Homo sapiens: one gene and its partner. The protein of the gene in region 1 purifies or fractionates together with the protein of each later gene. This does not show direct contact. Each region holds a gene or a part of one and is shown on either strand. Other genes may lie near its edges.

Region 1 (8,489 bases):
AGCTGCATTTCAACCTTTCAAAATGTAGGTGAATATCTAACAGAATTGCATATACTACTAAATTATGTCAACTTCTGTACATTTACTAAAAGCTTCCATTGTAAAAAGATTTATTTTCTTACTGTAATTGAATTGAGTATTAAAAGCAAATTAACAAGTAATAGCTAATTATACTGTAACTTATTTCAGAAATAAAACTTAGGTTATCTTTTCTAAAAATTTTCCAGAAAACAACTAGATTATGTTTTTATTTTGAGATGAGGTCTTGCACTGTCACATAGGCTGAAGTGCAGTGAAGGCACAAGCCACCAAACCTGGCTTTTTTTTTATTTTTTATAAAATAGCCAGGGGTCTTACTATGTTGCCCAGGCTTAGTTAGGTTTTTAATGACTTCCTTTAAAAGTAAAAACTTTCCAGTTAACCATTTATATCATTTTTATAAATTTAATGCCAGTTAAGACTAGTAAGACATTCTAGTACCAAAGAAACGTCAGGTTAGGTTAATAAATATTGGCAGTTAATGAACTGGCGCATCTGAATCCTAATCCTTTGTAAGTGATTCCAATATAATTTTAAAAAATTTAAAAATGTTCAAACATTCATAAAAGATGACAGTCATAATGAACTCCAATCACCAATATTCTAAAATATAAGATTTCTGTCACTCCAAGTAATCTTAAATACATATTATTCAGATTGCTTTACATTCTCTTAAATATTGATAATAATGCTTACTTAAGATGATACAATAAATATGCTTAAGATAATATAATGTTTAGGCCAGGCGTGGTGGCTCACGCCTGTAATCCCAGCACTTTGGGAGGCCGAGGCAGGTGGATCACGAGGTCAGGAGACCAAGACGATCCTGGCTAACACGATGAAACCCCATCTCTAATAAAAATACAAAAAAATTAACCAGGCATGGTGGAGGGCGCCTGTAGTCTCAGCTACTCAGGAGGCTGAGGCAGGAGAATGGCTTGAATCCAGGAGGCAGAGCTTGCAGTTAGCCGAGATCGCACTACTGCACTCCAGCCTGGGCGACAGAGCAAGACTCCGTATCAAAAAAAAAAAAAAAAAAAGATAATATAATGTTGAGAACTACAGGTATGTTAGAGAAATGACAGTTCTCAAACCCTTTAAAATATGATTATAGGTTTATACAGTATATGCAACAAAATGAAAACAAATCATACATAAAAAAATGAGATCACATGTAGTCTGGCATCTAGATTTATAAACTATGTATTATTAGACACTGAAATCAAAAGACTAGGCCTAGAAGTTTCTCCTTGAGTTTCACATTTAGACTTCATTAGTTTATTCAACAAGTAGTTACTGAATTCCTACTGTGTGCCAGGTAAGAGATAAAAGATGACTATTTGCCAGGATCAGTGGCATACACCTGTAGTCCCAGCTACTCCGGAGCCTGAAGTGGGAGGATCGCTTGAGGCTAGGAGTTCGAGACCAGCCTGGTCACCAGAGCAAGACCTCATCTCTTAATAAATAAATAAATAGAAAAGGTAGTCATTTAATTCTAATATTTCTCAGTTAATCCTTTAAAAGTACATTTCAGTTAATTAAGGCTGACTTTTAATATTTGAATGCCACCAAACTAAGTAGTTAAGGTTAAAATTTATAACAGTTTTCAGAAAATCCATGGTTTACATTACACTCTATGTCAAGTAGTTATGTGATTACAATTACTACAGTAACAATTACTTGTACAGTACCCAAAAGAATAAAAAGTTAAAAAAAGGAGGGGGAAAAAAAAAGACAATAATGGGAAGAAACAGCATCCGTGGCCAATTCTTAAGTGACCACTATCCATGCAGAAAGACTACATTTAATAAGGTCTACCCCCTTCCTTTCATTCCACTCATTCCACTACAGTACTATAGTGTCATTTATTCCAGAAAGAAGCTTCTAGGATTTCATTTCCTTTCCCAGTAAAGGGACCCTCCTCAGGGCTCCTCACAGCATATTTTCCCAGTATCCTGTGAACCCCTCTTCCACCTCACCTTGTACTCTAAGGGCCTAACACTGCCACAAAGAAACTGTTCCTAAAAAAGTCCTAATGAATGAATGGTTTCATGTGTGAACAAGCGATTCAGTCTGAGATGTCAACTAAAGAGACTATTTTGCTGAATGACTTTAACATATGCCCTAATGAAAGAAAGAAGCCCCCTAAAGTCTGGAATATTTATAAAAATTCAGAGCAAGTTTCCAAGAAAAGAACAATAGTATTTCACTGTGACAAAGACAGATGATAAGCAAGACTACTTCGTTCCTAAAAATTTCTACTAGGGTAGTAAATTATTCAAATAGGCAGACTTTGGGAATCCTCAAGGTGTTTTTTCCTAAAGAAAGGTTTCTCTCAAAGGTTTCCTTGTCATGGAAAAACCTAAGAGAAAATTTTGATAAAGAACTTGTTACTTAGAAATACAGCTAGCTAAATCTGTACTTTGTTTTGATACCGTACCTGTAGGTAAGTATCTAACCATACAATTTGTTTCTGGAACCACATTTAGCCCAAGAGGGTCCACGTTCTCAAGTTTAATAGAGTACACTGATCTGGGTGACCCAGTGAGATAACAAACCCTATTTCCAGCTTCTAGATACTGATGAATTATGGTTGAATAAATATCAGGAGAAGGAGAGACACAATGCAAAACAAATACGCAGGTTCTTCGTGGGTGAAGACGACCCTGGTCTAATGGGGCTCAACGAGGCAGAGTATCACAGAGTCAAAGCAAACTGCTGGTGGTTCCCAGGGACGTGGTGATAGGTTAGATGCACAAGCGAGCTGGCCAGCGGAACAGATGCAGCGCCCATACAAGTGGCTTAGCGAAGCCTGGGTGCATGCAGAGATGACTGGGCAAAGGAGAAATTTTGAGAGAAGTGGGGTGGGGTAGGAGGAGGGGCTCAAGATGGGAGTAGGAAATTTGGAGAACAAGTAGGAAAGCAGAATCAACTTTGGCAACCTTTAGAGTTGAGGGGTTAAGGGGTAGGGCAGGAGGATGAAGCGAGGAGAGAAGCTCGGGGAGTGGGGGTGGCGAAAATCAGAGCCCAGACAATGACACGCATGACTGACAAACGCTGCGGGTAGCTCGCCTGCAGGGAGCACTGGGCAGGCCTAGGGGTGTTGGGATTGGAGGACCCCGAGCTAGCAGTGCAGACAGTGGACGTGGCATTGGGGGTGCCGGGGCCAAAGGGAAGCGACAGCCAGGAGCCACGGGGTGCGGCGTGGAGAGGCAGGTGTCTCAGACTGGGGCGCAGGAGGTGTTCCCAGGGGGCCGGCAGCGTGGGGCTTGGGAGACCCGTGCCCTGACAATCTTACCCTAGATCTTCCAACGACTCCAAGATGTCAGTCTCCATGAGGTCACACTCCATGCTACTGTGGTATTCAAATTTCCGAGTCGTCAGGCTCCCCTCTTCGCCGGCAACGCGTACACTCGCGCATGCGCGACTTCCCCGGAACTTCCAAATCCACAGCTGGCGCCTCAGCTCCCGCACTGCGCATGTCCGGAGCGTGCGCAAGAAACTTGGTCCCACTGACCGCCCCACCCCTGCCCACTAAAGAATTACAGGGCCCGCAGTTTTGCACATGCGCGTTACTGGATCGTGAAGCTAGCCGCCCAGAGAAGGGTAGGAGGACCGGCTGCGTGGCAGCTGGGCGTGGGGACCACGCGAAGGGGAGCGCTCTCGGCTCTCGTTATTGGGTGTACGCATGTGCGAATGTAGGGGGCGCGGCGGGCCGGGAAGGAGCTTGGAAGAGTCTCGGGACGCGGGTGGAGTCGGCTGTTAAACCGAGTCTCTGCATCCCAGACAGGAGATCGGGTGGCTCTTCGTAGGGTGCCGGCATGTGCTAGCCTTAGCTTGCAGGTCATGTAGAAAGGGAGAATTCTTGCGCTCCCGTCTTCAGGACGCGGGTGCGGGCCAAGTGCAGACGGCAGATAGCGTGCCATTTGATTTCCTCGTGGCTGCAGTAGCTTTATTTCAGGGTTAGGGATGAGCCAACTTTCCGCAGACTATGGATGTTCAGAAAGTTGGGTCGTTTTCCCTCATGCATTCTCTACCTGATGTCTAAAGCCCTTCCCAGACACTAAGCATGTTATTTTAAGGAGAAGGGGAGCTTCACTCCATAGCAAATAGAATAGAATATTTTTAAATCCACGTAGTTTAGACAGTGAATAAACTTTTTGGCTGTACTGTCATTACTTTTGACATTATTTGCCCGGGTGAAACATTGAGTTCACGATGTGGATGTGTTGTGATATCTTGGCAGTTACTGAGGGTGTGTTTAGAAATTACTGAAAAATCAGAAATGTTTTCAAAGTGATGGCATATTTAGAAAACTATATTTAACCATAAGTTGGCGTACTGTTAAATCGTGTAGGCATTTAATTAAAGAGTTTTCATATTGATACCTGTTGATTTTATTCTATAGTTCTCAAGCATTTTTGTGTCTGATGGATAGATGTTCCTATCCTTAGTAGTACCTTTTTCTTTTCTTTCTTTTTTTTTTTTTTTTTTTATGAGACGGAGTCTTGCTCTGTCGCTCAGGCTGGAGTGCAGTGGTGCGATCTCGGCTCACTGCAAGCTCCGCCTCCCGGGTTCACGCCATTATTCTGCCTCAGCCTCCCAAGTAGCTGGGACCACAGGCGTTCACCACCACACCCAGCTAATTTTTTGTATTTTTAGTAGAGACGGGGTTTCACCATGTTAGCCAGGATGGTCTCGATCTCCTGACCTTGTGGTCCGCCCACCTTGGCCTCCCAAAGTGCTGGGATTACAGGCGTGAGCCACCGCGCCCGGCCAGTAGTACCTTTTTCAGTTTCCTTATTTTGCATCATCTGAAGTGGGGGTAGGTTTTCTGCACTTACCATGGGCACTTGATATGGCCCATTATGATGCAGTCACCATAAGGCTGTGTGAATATTAGTCACATTCTACAGATGAGGACACTAAGGCTGAGTGGCTTAATAATCTTCAGCGATCTTAATGCCTGTAAGTATGAAACTAGATTTTGAGATTGAGGTATATCTAAATCCATATTCCTTCTTTTTTGACTAGTCAAATAAGGATTTATACGCAGGATGTGAAAAGAGGAAAATTTAGCTAGTTGAATTTGTTTAAACTTGTATATATTGTACATAATTACCTTATAATAATTGAATAATTATTTTCCTCATAGGGTTGTTGAAGGTGCTAAACAAAAAGTCATGCCTAATACAAAAATCAATTTTGAAAGAAAAAGGGTTTCATTCTTGACTCACTTTTGATGTAAGCTGTGTTCAATATTGAACTAATATTGAATATAATATTGTGTTCAATATTAGTGAATGAACGAGTGATGACTTCCCTAAAAGTATTAGTATTCCCTTTCTTTCTTTAAAAAAAATCCAGCTTTTGCAGGAATAGTATTCTCTTTCTAATTCACATCGTTAGCTTAAATGAAGGATTGCTGATATGAAATTTTTATATATTATGGTTTAAAGGAATTCTACAATGGCTTTCTCTGCAATTAAAAAAAGCTTTTAAATACTACTTAAACAAAATTGTGTTCCCTACCAGGCAGGCTCAGAAAGAAAGAAAAAAAATTGTCATCATTTTAATGGGATCTACGAGGAATCTTTTGCATTTTATTTAGAAATTATTTATGTTTATAATGGAACCTGATATCTGAAGACCTCTTTGAAACTGAGTTTACTAGAATGAAAGGAACAATGATTTGGAAGTGAGGAAGCTCTGGTTTTTGCATCAGATCAGTATAAGAAAGAATTTTTCTAACACTCTAAGAGTAGTCTTAAAGTGACTTAGGTATCGTTGAGAGATGATGAGCTTCCTGTCTAGAAGGTGTTCACCTAGAGGCTGAATAATTACTTAAGGGTACTCTTGTGAGAAGGCACACCCACAAGTGCCAGCACATGCCCTTTTACTGATGACTTTGATTCTAGATTCTTTCTCAAAAAAGAATATAAAATACCAACTTAAAACCCTTCTAGGGTCTGGCGCGGTAGTTCAGACCTGCAATCCCAGCACTTTGGGAGGCTGAGGCAGGACGATTACTTGAAGCCAGGGGTTCAAGGCCAGCTTGAGCAACATAGCAAGACTCTGTCTCTGTTAAAAAAAAAAAAATTAATTAAAAATGACTTCCAGGTGGGACCCAAGTGAGGCAGAGGGGCAGGGGCTGGCAGACCAGCGGTAAGCATGGCATATCAGGGCCTCACCATACGTCTCATTGCAATGAGCGTGTTTTAGGGCTTCACTGGTTTCTTCATGCCTTGGTTCATCCCTAAGGGTCCTAAGTAGGGAGTTATCATTACCATGTAGGTGACCTGTTCAGTTTGTTGCTGTCTCTTTTGGCTGATTGCAATCCTGGCCAACTCAACCCTCTCTTCAGACTGCAGTTGAAACATGAAATCATCTGGTATCCGAAGTGTCATTGGCCTTGAGGAAGACAGGCTTTACAGTGCTCAGTCTTAGCAGTCATGAGAAAAGAATTCCTTCTAGATGCAAAATCCAAACCACACCACTTTTCTTGACTTGCTTATTTTGGGCATCAGCTGCCTTAAACATTCACACCACATTTGAATGTCTAACACAATGCAGCATTTTTTTCTTCAACTTTTTTATGCTTTAATGAATTATGTGCCTACTTAACCTAAACTGTGCCAACTCCTCAAAATGATAATGCACTCTTTTGAGAGAGAAGATGCTTTTCTTCTGAGAAATGTGTTATTATGTCCTTGGAATTTGTGGATTTGTAGTGGCTCCTGCCTTCTCATAACATGGGAATCAGTGAACTATTTAGAACGTACTACTGCCTGACAAGACTCCAGTGGGGCAGTCAGTAGGAGAGGACGTTCAGAGGAAAGAGCTCTCCCAACAGAATTACACCAAATTATGTGTTCTTTTTTTTTTCTTTCTTCCTTTTTAAACAGAGTTTTGCTCTGTCGCTCCCGCTGAAGTGCAGTGGTGATCTCGTAGCCTCAACCTCCTGGGCTCAAGTGATCCTCCTGCCTCAGCCTCCCAAGTAGCTGGGACTGCAGCCGCTGGCCACCATGCCTGGCTAAGTTTTTTTATTTTTTGGTAGAGACGGTTTTGCCATGTTGCCCAGGCTGGTCTCAAAATCTTGGGCTCAAGCAATCCGCCCACCTTGGCCACTGCACCCCGTCATGAGCCACCACATCCGGCCCAAGGTATATTTTCAGCATGAATTTCTCATTTCTGCCATCTTTTGGAATAAATCATTTTTCTGTTTTCTATAGATAAAATAAAATATAAAATAAAGCTATTCTAGTGTCCCATCTTTGAGGGAGTCTGGTTACTGTCCATATTCTTAACTGCTGCTGCTACAGATTACCACAAATTTAGAGGCTTAAAACAAGACAGATTTATTATCTTACAGCTCTGGAGGTCAGACACCTGAAATGGATCTCACCTGGCAAAAATGGGCAGGTTTGCATTTCTTCTGGAATCTCTAGGAGAGAATCTGTTTTCTTCCCTGTTTTGGTTTCTAGAGGCCACCCACCTTCCTTGGCTTATGACTCCCCTCCTTCATCAAGACCAGCAACACCACTCCGACCCCTGCTACATGGTAGTCATGCCCTCTTACCTTCCTGCCTCCCTCTTTTACTTATAAGGACCCCCATCCTTGTGCCAGATAATCCAGAATAATCTCCCAACCTTAAGATCTTCAATTTAACCACACCTGCAAAGTCCCTTTTTCCATAGTCTCATGTTCCAACGATTATGATGCAGATAGTTTTCGGGGGAGGGGGGTCCATACCACACTGCCTTTCCTGGAGAGTAGAAACAATGAATGATCTTAAAGATCAGCCTTTTCTAGCTCTTCTTGAAGAGAATAAAGACAAATTATTTTTTTCACTTGTGAAAGAAATGTAAATGGGAAAATTGAAAACTGATTTCAGTTTCCAGAGGAACATGTTTTATAAGTCATAACCTTAAAAATTATTAGAAGGTTTTTAATTATATAGTAATTAAAAATTTATGCAGCTGACATCTTTAAGAAAGTTACTTCTAGCATCTATAGAAGTAATTTTTTATCATGGAAAAGAGGTAGGTATAAGCTCAAATATAAGATTTGTCATGGATTGGTTTCTAAGAGGTGATTAAATAGGCATCTAAAACAAATAACTTTTCTATCAAAAATAAAAGAACACTGTCTGAAAAATAGCAGCATTTTCCATTTTTAGTGAATTTATCTTTAGAATGACCCTCCAGCAAGGAGAAAATAGAAAGACCATAGATTTACTGGTGTTGCTCAGAAATGCAAGTTTGTATATGTTGCTAAATAAAGTCCTTTTCAGCTTGCACAGTGAAAGCACAACTCTTTTTTTTTTTAAGTTAGCATGTAGAATTAAATCTTGTATGGTCTCAAATACTTTATATTACTAAAGAATGCTGTTTTTTCAAATCATTCCTCTGGCTATGTTAGTATAGTTTCTGAGCCCTGGCAATTTTTA
Region 2 (7,491 bases), on another chromosome or scaffold:
AGGCATGAGCCACAGCAACTGGCCGATCTTGTTTCTTTTAAAGGTTCTCTGGACTGATTAAAAGAGAAAAAGTGTTTTTTTTGTTTGTTTGTTTGTTTGTTTTAAGTATTCTTTGTAAGCTCTTGCTTACCACAGTTATGGGAACAAAGCACTAAGGACTGATTGGCAAAGTAGCAAAAGCAGTCAGCCTTATTGTAAAATCATGTCAACGTCTAGTTTTTAAACTTTTTTTTTTTTTTTTTTTTTGAGACAGAGTCTTGCTCTGTTGCCCATGCTGGAGTGCAATGGCGTGATCTCAGCTAACTGCAAGCTCCGCTTCCCGAGTTCATGCCATTCTCCTGCCTCAGCCTCCCAAGTAGCTGGGACTACAGGCACCCGCCACCATGCCCGGCTAATTTTTTTTGTACTTTTAGTAGGGACGGGGTTTCACCGTGTTAGCCAGGATGGTCTCGATCTCCTGACCTTGTGATCCGCCCACCTCAGCCTCCCAAAGTGCTGGGATTACAGGCGTGAGCCACCACACCCAGCCTAATTTTTATACTTTTATAGCTGCTGTCAGCATATTCCTTATGCTAATCACAAATAAAACTTGGACCCTTTATTTGTATTTGATATTCCTTATTATGGAAATATAGTTGGGAATTAGTGCCATATACAGATGCTATAGAAACACACTACAATGTAAGCCAAAAATAAATGTTTATAGAATGTACTGATAAACAAAGCTGCTAAAAAGATAAGGAAATACGGTCCCTCCAAATAGTGTTACATACTGTGTTTGCCTCATATTAGAGAGGTACTTTACAAAACTTTATAGTTTTACAATATATCTGTATTTATGAACCTTATAGGAATCTCATCACAATCCCATAATGTAGACTAGGCAAGAATTATTAACACTTTACTCACTGCGAAATCTCAACTTCAGAATGAGTGTCTGACTTGCTTTAATATATGATGAATAAGTGGTAGAGCCCAGAATAAAAATATGGGTTTCCCAATTCCTGGTGATTCTACTATTTTTAACATATACATACTTACACTTCCTCAAACAGAGTTGTAGCTCAGCCCTCTTTATATCTAGTGTAATGACAAAATGAGTACCATCATTATGCCCAAGTGTTACCTACCCCCACTGACCACTGATGACCACGTTCCCCCCGAGGGACTGGTCCTTGCTACTGGAGGAGTAGCTGCTTCACTGGGTGGGTTGTGGGATACAAATTCTAGGCCACTGGATATGGAACCCCTCCCAGCAGAAACTCTGTGATTTCGAGGATGTCGCTGGGCCTTTGGGGACATCCTTGGAGGCCCTAAGGAAGAAACAGTGAACATCACATAAATTCCATGATATTCATCAGTACTACTTTTCTGCTAAATACACCCATTCACACACACATGCACACACACTCACTCACTCTACAGTTTTTCCTTGGTTAAAAATAGAAAAAAAAAAAACACCATACATATTTTTTTGGCCATACTAATTCTTTCAGAATTATTTTGTGGAATGCCACAAAGTTTTATAAATAAATTTTATTATTTCCCTTTATTTTTAAAGAAAGGGAGGGATGAAGTTGGTGGTAAGAAATCAACAATAAGATGTCAACTCTTAAAAGAACTGTAGCAATCTGTTTCAACTATGTCTTATTTGTAAAGAAATATGTTACTAGAAATTATGACTACATGATAAAATATTTTTAACTTTCCATATATTTTACCTTTCCCTGACCCGAATTTTCTACATTACTTCTAAAATTAGAAAAAAAAAATTTAAACAGAAGACTATTAATCCCTATACACCCCGATACCACTAAAACATATGTACATACCCTTCTTAAATTTCTCTAAAATTTTAGTTTATTTATCTCTTCTATCATGATCATCAATTTTAAAACTCGGCTTAAAACAGTAAGCAGTAACCTGTAAGCAGTTTCTTAGGCTTAGCAGGCTGTGAGCTGAAAATTCTATTAAAGGGATGACTTGTATTAGTCTATTAATAGATGACCAAAATAACTGACATTTGGGGGAGAAATCAGCACTATATGAATTGTCAAAATTCTACATTATTGATTCTGCCATGCCACTAGTGACTACTCTTTCTAAATCAGTCTACTGTGCATTAGACCAATCTATCAGGTAAAAGAGTGGACAGAATGGCCCTCATCAGAGAAGCCTACTGGTGTTAACACCAAGCGAAAACTTCCCTAATGTCAAAGCCAAATCTCCTCACTCTCTCACCCGGCTGCCAAACTCTTTAGAACTTCAAATTAATATATGTTGCCAATAGAATTATTATTTTATTTTTATTTTTATAAGACAGAGTCTGTCTCTGTCGCCCAGGCTGGAGTGCAGTGGTACGATCTCAACTCACTGCAACCTCTGCCTCCCAGGTTCAAGTGATTCTCCTGCCTCAGCCTCCCAAGTAGCTGGGTATTTTTAGTAGAGACGAGGTTTCACCATGTTGGCCAGGCTGGTCTCAAACTCCTGACCTCAAGTGATCCACCTGCCTCAGCCTCCCAAAGTGCTGAGATTACAGGCGTTAGCCACCATGCCTGGCTTCCAACAGGAATTTAAACACGAACATGATCTTTAGAAGAATGCTAATGTTATACACTATAATTTTCAAATGGAAATATTCAACATCTCTGAATGACACAGAAAGTATATTTCTGTGTGAAGTTAATACATGAGCAGTCCTTAAATCTTAATGTAATAAAGATGTTCACAGTCATTAATGATCATGTTTTATTTAATATATTCTCATTAAATAAACATCGCTTACTCAAATGATGGACTACAAGAAAAATATCAACAGAATTTTGCATTTAGTGACCACTATTAAGGCCCTTTTGAGCAAAGAAGTCACCTTGAAAATCAGTGGAACTTGCTCTTCAAGGTTAGATGCTTCAGTCAAAGTCATATGACCTGCCTGCTTAGATGGTAACAATTTATTTAAAAGTAGCCAATACAGTTTTCTCCAGGGAAGCAGGAGAAACACATTTTGTGCGGAAAACTTTATTAGTCCCAACATAAGCAATATTAACTAATTTTAATGAACAAATCAGATTAAAATTTTAACACAAATATTCAGAACTAGTATCAAAAGGACATTATGATTCAGAAAACAGGTTTTTAATATATGGGTGGCATTTAAATTAGAATGTTACCTTTCTACAACATATCCCTGTATTTGATATGTGGCAATGATGGATTTAGCGCCAAATACTGAATAAGAATTACAAGATTTTATTCTTATTTTTGACGAGGAAAGAAATAGCTAAATATTCAAATTCATATGTCGTTTTTATCAATTTTATCTCAGATCAAGGACTTCTTCCAGATTAAAGCAGCCTTTCACTATGTAAGATTGCAAAGCTAACTTTAAAAAAATTACTCAGTTAAATTTAGAATTCTTCTGGCATTCTAAAAATCAACTACTTTAATCTAAGGGCAGACACGCAAAGTCAGCTACATGGGCTGTCGCTCTCAAAAAAGACCCAGAAAACACCATCCCTGCTTATGGCCAATAGGAAGGTTCACTAGGACCTTGGCCAAAGAGCTGTAAAATGAACCTAAGTTCAAGACTGGCTGAAGAAAGTTCATTTGTTTAACTACTGTATACAGTGCAAATAAGGAGGGGGAAGGCTGTGGGGCAGACCCTTCTGGGGCTGTAAAGAAGCATAATTATCAGGCAGAGATAAACCCCCTTTTTAACAACAATTCAAGAGAGTTTATAGCTTCACACATTTATCAAATTTCTCTCTAATGAACAAAAGGTTAATAGAAATAGTTTTAATAAACTAAAGTTAAAACACAGAAATTATAGGTTATTAAATAATGAAGAGGAAACTATTTTGTAATTATAAACTCACATAGGAGTTAAACAAAGACAAACAAAAACATGAACAAATTGTGGTATTGTACCTTCTGAAGACATGCGTTTAGGCATAGTAGAGACAGGAGCTGGAGAACCATGAGCAGAGGGGTGAGACGGGGGTCTGGATGGCCGCGAGGGGGGCCTGGAGGGCGGCCGTGTAGGGGTGGCTGCCCGAGGTGGAAGAGAGTTGGGACCTGACTGGTAGCGAGAAGGTGGGCGAGAGGAAGGAGATGGGCAAGGCGATGGCCAGGGAACACCTGACAGAACAAATGATATGAAGGAAAGTATAAAAACTAAAGAAAAAAATGAGGGAAAAAAGTAAACAGAAAAAAAGTAAAATGACAAAAATGATTTCTTGTACATTTTAACCCTTTGAGGACAGTCATTTGATTTGTGATAAGTTTTAGCATAACTTAACTGACATAAATTCACATTTTACTTTAACCTCCTTAAGATTAAGTCTGTTTAAATGAATACACGTTCCCAAAGGGTTAATTAGGATCTATACACACTATTGAAGAAGACAGTTAAGACTTTGCCTATTAATCCTGCTTCTATAACTGTTTCTCAGTAACTGGTTGTTTAAAGGAATATAACATACACTAGATAATTTCACATAATAAATCACAATAATTCCTACTCAGGAGTAAGATTATTTACTGTATTAGTTTTAACTCTGAGGCATAACGAAAATAAGCAGTAGCTATTATATCCAATTAGAAATGCTGGTTCCTTACAATTATCTATGATTTTCATCAGGTTTACACTTGAACCCAGAACTCAGTTTGGAATCTTATTAAGCAAGTCCCATTTAAGTAGAAATAAAACATTACTCTTCTAGAGTTTGTGACTCCTGTGAGTATCAAATGATAATATTCATTGCTATTTCAAAAAAAAAGTCTTGACCTCATTAAACTAGAAAAAGGGAGACCTTCTAAATAATTTATACAGTTAAACACTTATCTAAGCGACTGCTTAATAAATACTGCAACTACAAAGCAGTCATCACCAAATAAATTTATACTGATGGATATGCCTAGGTAAAGATACAGCTAGTATTTAACATTACATATCACTTACCTTAATCTTATCAAACAGTCCAGGTCTCCTCTCCATAGGGTTCCACACACTTAAGTATCATATATTTCTCAGCCCCCTTCAGGTTTTTTAACTTTAAAATTCTGTTTATAAACAACTAAAATCTTTCCTCAGTGAGCAAAGAAATTTCACCCCCAATATTAAGTACTGAAAATACTCAAGAGTGTCCATTTGGAGAGGAATTCTGGAGAAAAGACTCAATGAAAACAAATGAAATTGGAAACTTAGTGTTCTCTATTTTCATCTAACTTTCCAAATTTAAATAGCTAAAATTGAATGTCCACTCTTTTCCCACAAAGTTAGTAACATACTATTGCTATTACTATTTCCATACCATCCATAGAACTGTTGTTCAGTATCCCTGATTTATGGAAAAGATCCACAACCTACAAGATATATTCAACCTAGATTTAGAGGTAGAGTAAAAAATGTCTTCCTACTAAAGATTCAGGTTTCTTTTACTTAAGTTGCTAAACTGTAACATCCACCCTTAGACTAAGGGTTGTTTTTGTTGTTTTTTAAGCAAATTTCTCTAGTCACTTTCTTCACATGACTCTTGATCATGTCTTGTATTATAAGTTACCTCAGATCCTTTCTTGAAGTAAGCATAATATAGAAACAAATAATGAAAATTGATCTATATTAACCACAGTGTTGCACATAGGTTAGAATTTTCCATATAAATTATGTCTAAAAAATTTTATTATCCAGTGTTTTTAAAATTGAGAACCTACCCAAAGTTTCCAATTTCTTTATATGTGAAGTGTTTTTGGCCAAGTGATTGTCTTGGGTTAAATGTAGCACTTTATCTTAGTACATCATGAATATTTCATCATGCTAAATAATATATATGTCAATGACATATACAATGTTTTACTAATTTAATATCCACAAAAGCCAATTTTAAGTAATGCTGAAGTGAAAGCTACTCACCAAATCATTAAAGTGCACATTCATATCAGTTATGTAAACTATTTTAAGTATTTTAAGTATTTAGAAAACTATTTTATCAATGATATTGACAAGTCTGGTCAAAATACTTGCCTCCATTAACTACTCTTTGGTCTGAACCAGAATTCGGGTTGAAATCTGAAGTGTGAGAAGTGGATCTTGATGGCATGGAGCCCGATCCAGGCTGGCCCATACGCGGTGAATTCTGTCTCCCACTTCCCCAGGATATGACTTCTCTATTTCTTTGTCCAGGAGGAATATATTTATTTTCCCTGAAAATGAGAGATCCTCTAAATCATTTTATTCTAAAAGGTACCAAGCCAATGAAACATATCTAAAAGTCATCTAGACAGAAGGGAATGCTTGTTACAAAAAGGTTCTACACTAAACCAAACTGCCTCACTCCCAGATGCCCCTGTTCTTCCATCTTACCCTGAGTTCTAACCTCTGGACTGTCCCTTCCCTTAGATTCTGCTCCTAAGCACAAAGTTTAACAGATGCGTGCTCATTCTCATCCCACTTGACCTCTCTATGGCTGATTCCATCAATCTTGGTCTATCTTCACAACATTTTTTGTCCTTCACTTTCTCAATTTTATTTTCTCTGAGATCTCTTCTCTCACTGGCTGTTCTTTGGTTTTTCATGGCTCCAATATCGGCAATGCTGATGAAACCTCAAACTGAACCGCCAGTCTCACAGTGTCAACATCTATCAGTGGACATGTCAATTCAAATCACCAGACTCTAAGCTGACTGCCTTTAAGAGAGGATGCATCTCTTACTTTACTAGATAGGTAGCAGGTATTTCTCAACACGTTTATGAATAAATGAAAGACCCACAAGCCCACATATGCAATTAGCTGCACAAACGGAGTCACTGTTTTTCCCCTCAAACTTGCTCCATGTTTCCTCTCTCTCTTACCAGTACATCCATTAAGTCACTTAGTTATCAAATAAACCTCAGGCTCATCCCTTAACTAGGTGGTTACCAAATTCTCACAGTTGAACTATTTCAGTGCACTAACTGTTCTCTGTGTCTCAGCCAGTCCTCAATGCCCCAGGGTTTATTCACCCCATCTCCTTCCAACAGGGTGCTCTTTAGCATGACATGCCAAGTCCTTTAATGACCTCAGTTCCTACTATCAACTGCCACTGCTGCACCTGACACAGATCCTGTGTTCCAGACACATGCAACAACCAGCCCTCTCCTGAGCTGGCCAAATTTTCTCATAGCCATGCTTGTACATGGCTTTTCATCAGGTGATAAACTCTTCTCCCAACTCTTCTCTAAGTGTCAAAGACCCTATTATCTTATCACAAAATGTCACCTCCTCAATGAGGTTTTCTCTGACTCTACAGGTTATGCTAGCTCCTCCTCATTCTGTATGTTCCTAGTACTTTGAACATGCCTTTAACCAAGCAAATCATATTGTACTGCTGTGATTGTTACACGTGTCCCCCACCAGATAACTATTTTAACAAGCTCTTCAAGATCTTGGATTGCTCACCGTGATATACCAACACTTGGCTCCACAGAGCTTACTCTCAAAAGCATATTTTCCA

What was found. Proteins that work in one complex are often made in the same cells at the same time.
Region 2: the proteins of FAM98A (region 1) and ATXN2 purify together in Homo sapiens (co-immunoprecipitation; 4 studies listed by BioGRID and IntAct, with this or other methods). This does not show direct contact.

The regions. Positions count from the first base shown.
Region 1 is NC_000002.12:33,595,832-33,604,320, forward strand, and holds the start of FAM98A (protein FAM98A), read right to left. Parts: upstream 3,469-8,489; 5' UTR 3,391-3,468; coding exon 3,338-3,390; intron 1-3,337. UniProt on the Homo sapiens protein: Positively stimulates PRMT1-induced protein arginine methylation. Involved in skeletal homeostasis. Positively regulates lysosome peripheral distribution and ruffled border formation in osteoclasts.
Region 2 is NC_000012.12:111,512,227-111,519,717, forward strand, and holds part of ATXN2 (ataxin-2), read right to left. Parts: intron 6,202-7,491; coding exon 6,023-6,201; intron 4,138-6,022; coding exon 3,928-4,137; intron 1,314-3,927; coding exon 1,131-1,313; intron 1-1,130. UniProt on the Homo sapiens protein: Involved in EGFR trafficking, acting as negative regulator of endocytic EGFR internalization at the plasma membrane.